Linked DNA regions of Homo sapiens: region 1 is linked to region 2. Evidence: fine-mapped expression QTL. A gene starts in region 2. The other region holds a variant in brackets. All regions are shown on one strand. Distances are between the middles of the regions.

What was found. PIP is the estimated chance that this variant, and not a neighbour inherited with it, causes the effect.
Region 1: its variant is fine-mapped to the expression of CACFD1 in subcutaneous fat (GTEx, PIP 0.98).

The regions. Positions count from the first base shown.
Region 1 is chr9:133,502,607-133,505,511 of GRCh38, forward strand. No RefSeq gene overlaps it. Among named protein-coding and RNA genes, the nearest start is that of MYMK, 21 kb to the right of the region's middle. The variant C/T (reference allele first, on the strand shown) is at 1,490.
Region 2 is chr9:133,458,345-133,461,249 of GRCh38, forward strand. It overlaps CACFD1 (calcium channel flower domain containing 1), which reads left to right and starts at 1,634. Exons shown (of 5, transcript NM_017586.5): 1 at 1,634-1,843. The coding sequence starts at 1,723. ADAMTS13 (ADAM metallopeptidase with thrombospondin type 1 motif 13) reads left to right here. Exons shown (of 29, transcript NM_139027.6): 29 at 630-1,042. The coding sequence ends at 836. RefSeq lists silencers at 1,230-1,449, 1,460-1,559, 1,850-2,149.

The DNA.
Region 1 (2,905 bases), 44 kb after region 2:
CAATATTTGAAGAGGATTATGGCTGAAACTATTTCAGATATAATGAAAGATAGCAACCCACAAATTTAAGAAGCCCAGTGACTCTCAAGCAAGCCAAAGAAAAAGGATTCCACACGAGTCACATAAGAATAAAAATACAGAACATTGAAGACCAAGAGAAGTCTTATAAAAGAGCCCAAGAGAAAATATAGATTATCTTCAAAGATAGTTACGCTGAGAACTTACTATTCAGGAGCAACAATGGGAATTAGGAAACAGAGAAATGATGTCTTCAAAATGCTCAGAGCAAATGATTACCAACCTAGAATTCAATATCCGGTGAAAAAAATTAAAGATGCAAATGATTGTCAACCTAGAATTCAATATCCAGTGGAAAAAATAAAGACACAAAGGATTACCCACCTATACAATTCAATATTCAGTGAAAAAAATAAAGACAATCATAGGCAAATAAAAATCAAGAAGGTGTCCCACAAACAACCCTTGCTTAAGGAAATTTTTTGTAAAATTAATTTTATTTTTTAAGACAGGGTCTCACTCTGTTGCCCAGATGGGAGTGCAGTGGTGCAATCATGGCTCACTGCAGCCTTGAACTCTCAGACTTGGGTGATCCTCCCACGTCAGCCTCCTGAGTAGCTGGGACTGCAGGTGTGCACCACCATGCCCAGCTAATTCTTGTTTTTTTTTTTGTAGAGATGGGGGTCTCCATATGTTGCCAGGGCTGGTCTGGAACCCCTAGGCTCAAGCAATCCATCCACCTCAGCCTCCCAAAGTGCTGGAATTACAGGTGTGAGCCCACCATGCCCGGCCACTTGAGGAAGTTTTAAAAGATATGTTTGAGCCAGAAGGAAAATAACCCCAGATGAAAAAATTGGGGTATAAGAAGAGATGAAAGTCGAAGAGATTGTCATATGTGGGCAAATCTAAACAATTATTGGTGGTAAAAATGTCATGTGTTGTTTAAATGAAGATAAAAGAAAAATACAAGGTAATAATCGTCTTAAAGTTAGGAGGGAAATAATTGGAATTAAAAGGTTCTATGGTCCTGCGATGTTCAAGGGGAGGGTAAAGATATGAATTTACTAGAAACTTTGATGAACTACCACTAAAGGAATGGAATTAGCATATACATTCTAACTCTTTAAAGGGTTATGTATGTTTCCTCCCAGTCTGCTTCTTCGTGATGTCTTTTGAAGGGTAAATATTTACAATTTTGATGGTCTAGTTGATCAGTTTTTTTCTTTGATGGATCACACCTTTGGTGTCATATTTAAGAAATCTTTGCCTAATCCAAGGTCACAAAGATTTTCTCTGATGTTTTCTGCTAGAGGTTTTCTAGTTTTTGGAGTTAATTTTGGGGTGGGATGTGAAAAAAAGGTTGAGGTTCACTTTGATGCCTCGGGACATTGATTTGTTCCAGCATTATTTGTGTTAAAGACTGTCCTTTGCAGAGTGGGGGAATTCTCTTTTCTTTTCTTTTTTCTTTTTT[C/T]TTGACAGGGTCTTGCTCTGTCACCCAGGCTGGAGTGCAGTGGCGAGATCTCGGCTCACTGCAACCTCGACCTCCTGGGCTCAAGCAATCCTCCTGCTTCAGTCTCCTGAGTAGCTGGAACTACAGGTGTGCGCCACCACGCCCAGCTAATTTTTAAAATTTCTTTTGTAGAGGTGGAGTCTCGCTATGTTGCCCAGATTGGTCTTGAACTCCTGAGCTTAAGCAATCCTCCTACCACGGCTTCCCAAAGTGCTGAGATTACAGGTGTTAGCCATTGCACCCAGCCTGAGTGGGAGATTTTTACACCCCTCTCTCAGGAGTTGATAGCAAGTAGGCAAATACTTGGTAATGACAGATTTAAGCAGCATCGTCAAGAAGCTTGACTTGACGGACTCACACAGAAGGCCAAGGGCAGGACTACACGGGGCCGTCATGGAAGCTGACCACATGCTGGGCCATAGAGAGAGACAGCCGCTGTGAAGGCTTGCCGTCTCAGAGACTGTGTTTTCTGACCGACCTCAGTACCAGTTAGAACAATAATGATGATGGCGATAAAATAGTTTGAAATCGCCCTTATCTGCAAAGTAAGGAAGAAGACATCATCATGAACATTAGGAGGGCAGTCCGGTACCTGTCTCACAGGGCAGTTGAGAGACCTAACAGCCGCTATCCAGAAAGCACTTCTTAATTTTTTAATTAATTAATTAATTTTTGAGATGGAGTTTTGCTCTTGTTGCCCAGGTTGGAGTGCAATGGTGTGATCTCAGCTCACTGCAACCTCCACCTTCTGGGTACAAGCGATTCTCCTGCCTCAGCCTCCCTAGTAGCTGGGACTGCAGGATGCGCCACCACGCTCCGCTAATTTTTGTATTTTTAGTAGAGACGGGGTGTCACCATGTTGGCGAGGCTGGTCTCGAACTCCTGACCTCAGGTGATCTACCTGCCTCAGCCTCCCAATGTGCTGAGATTACAGGCGTGAGCCACTGCGCCTGGCCCATATTTTAAAATAATAATAATTATTATTATTTTTGTAGAGACAGGGTCTCCTTATATTACCCAGGCTGGTCTCGAACTCCTGGGCTCAAGCACATAAAGCACTTCTAACAGTGTCTGGCAGGCACTGCGAGAGCCAATGATGGGAGACTCAACCTCCTCCCCCTCCTTCGTGGCTTGTTTTCTGATTCATGTACTTGTTACTTGCTGGGTGCTGTCTGTGGGATCAGTCAGGCACTTGGCTGCCTAGAATTCTGTCCCACTGCACTGTGATGAGCCCAACAGCCAAGATCCCTGCGAGCTCACAGCTCAGGAGGCGGTGCCTAGGGGCTTCGCTGGTCCACAGTGAAGACCTCTGTTGGGCCATCCAGTGGCAGAACAGGGCAGGACAAAGGAGGCCGTGAGTGCAGTGTACAGCACACA
Region 2 (2,905 bases):
CAGGAGTTCGAGACCAGCCTGGCCAACATGATGAAACCTTGTCTCTACTAAAAATAGAAAAAGTAGCCAGGCATGGTGGCGTGTGCCTGTAATCCCAGCTACTTGGGAGGCTGAGGCACAAGAATCACTTGAACCCGGGAGGTGGAGGTTGCACTAAGCCCAGATCGCACCACTGCACTCCAGCCTGGGCAACAGAGTGAGACTCTGTCTCAAAAAAAAAAAAAAAAAAAAAGCGAAATGGTAAAGAATGGTAAAGACCTTTCTGATGTAGACTGACAGCTAACCCAAGACTGAAGCATAATTTTACAGTCTGATATAACTTGGACAGAATAGCACCCTGCACCCTCCCCGAGGTTTCAAGTGTCCTGGGAGAACTGTGTTCTGCAGGGTATCAGCTTCCCCAGAGGAGGCAGCCTGGCCCCGCTCTGGCACCCTGACTGTGTGTCCTTGGGGAAGTGATGTAACGTCCCTGGACCTCGGTTTTCTGGGTAGAGTAATGGCGTATTCCTAGTAGGGCTTTGTAAGCATTAAATGTGATCCGGAATCTGTGAGCCCTTGCACACGAAGGCTTCCGTGAGTGCTAATTATTACTTGTGGCCGGTCCTTCTGGGCTGCCCCTTTTCTCTCAGATCCGGGACACCCACAGCTTGAGGACCACAGCGTTCCATGGGCAGCAGGTGCTCTACTGGGAGTCAGAGAGCAGCCAGGCTGAGATGGAGTTCAGCGAGGGCTTCCTGAAGGCTCAGGCCAGCCTGCGGGGCCAGTACTGGACCCTCCAATCATGGGTACCGGAGATGCAGGACCCTCAGTCCTGGAAGGGAAAGGAAGGAACCTGAGGGTCATTGAACATTTGTTCCGTGTCTGGCCAGCCCTGGAGGGTTGACCCCTGGTCTCAGTGCTTTCCAATTCGAACTTTTTCCAATCTTAGGTATCTACTTTAGAGTCTTCTCCAATGTCCAAAAGGCTAGGGGGTTGGAGGTGGGGACTCTGGAAAAGCAGCCCCCATTTCCTCGGGTACCAATAAATAAAACATGCAGGCTGACCGGCGTTTTTTTCTTATAAGCTGTCCAGACCTGGCTTGAAAACCCATCCCATGGCAAGGCAGGGATTCGCTGGCCGCGGTTGGCTCTATCTTGATCTGAGCAAGCCGCTGGACGTCCCTAGTTATCTTCTTCCTATCCAGGAAGAAAATCCAATCAGGATTCCACTCCGAGGATGGCGCATTAGCCAGCTCCCTGCGAAGCCCCACCCGTGTGTCCTGGTGTGAGGCTCTGACCGCTAAGGTGTCTGCGCGCCTCCAGGCCCCGCCCCCTATGCTAATAAGCGCCCGCCTCCTTTGGGAGCAAGTCGCCGCAAACTGCGAGCCCCCGCCCCCTACGCTAATGACGCCCGCCCCCCTCGGGCACACCTCTCCGATGCCTGCGAGCCCCGCCCCGTATGCTAACGAGCTCCCCACCCCCAGCTCCTCGCCGCAGCCTGCGGGTCCCGCCCCCTACAATAATGAGCACCTACCTCCCCTCAAACGCCCCTAGTCGCGGCATGAGGGTCCCGCTCACTATGTTAATGAGCACCCGCCTCCCTTCGGGCGCGCCTCGCCGCAGCCTGAAAGCCCCGCCCCCTATGCTAATATGCTCCCTCTCCCACAAGGCAGCGCGCCGGCTCGGACGCGGCCGGCTACCGAGCCCTTTGTGAGGGCTGTGAGCTGCGCCTGACGGTGGCACCATGAGCAGCTCAGGTGGGGCGCCCGGGGCGTCCGCCAGCTCTGCGCCGCCCGCGCAGGAAGAGGGCATGACGTGGTGGTACCGCTGGCTGTGTCGCCTGTCTGGGGTGCTGGGGGCAGTCTGTGAGTATCCAGTCGGGGAGAGGGGCCGGCCCCGCCGCGCATGCGCTCCTCGCCCTGCCCTGCCCCGCCCCGCCCCGGCGGCCCCAGGGGAAAGGACCCGCTGGGGGTCGGGGGTCTGCCGGGCGCCTCCCGGGGCGGAGGAATGGCGGGGCCGCCGGGAGCCGGCGTCCTGGGGTTGCCATGGTTACCCGCTCGGGCCTGGGCGCCTTGGTACCCCGGGCTGGGCTGGGCTGGCGCTTCTGGGAACATTCCCGGAGGGACCAGAAACCCCAGGGCGGGGGGGCGGCGGGGGCGGGGGTGGGGCACCGGCCTGGGGCACGTGACTGAGCCCTCCCCCCGCTCCCCAGGGGCTTTTGTGAGACTTTCTCGGTGATGCTCACGGGGCGCATGCCCACCTGGCCCGTACTAAAGCGTCAACTGTTGACTTGGGCGTAGGTGACGGCAGCCACATTGCTAACCTTTGGGCAAGGATTGTTTGTAAGGGAGGCGGGTGCACGGCTGGCTAGATTTCTGGCAGGAAGCCACTGGGCGGAAGTTTGCTGAGGGTCAGGTGGTGTCAGGGCACAGGTGGCCCCTGGGGCCGCGGGGCAGTGAGCTGAGGGCCCGGCCTCTCCCTGGGTCCTCTGTCCGCTCTCATATCTCCCCCGTTGCTGCTGCCTTAGCCGCCTGTCACCGGCCTTCCTCCCCTTCTCCGCACGCATCCCAGTCACAGACCCTGACCTTAGGCTGCCAGGGAAGCTAGGCTCTTAAGCACAGCCAGAAAAGGACAAAGAGGGAGGCAGGTCAGCTCCAGGAGTGAATGGAAGCCGTACAGCTGGCCTTCCAGGGAAAGACAAGTCTGTCTGAGTGATACCCTTTCCTTTCCTGTCTGCCCTCAATCTTGTGGATTACTGGAGTGGGCAAGGTCTTAGAGAATGTCTGTCGAGGATGTCTGCAGGTTTTAAACAGTGCCTGCCTGGCAGAGAGGGCTAGCTCTGGGCCTGGGCAGGGCAGGCCCCATCAGCAATCCTGCCAGAAGGACCACCTTTTCAGGGTCACCTTGGGTTCCACAGCCTTTCCAGG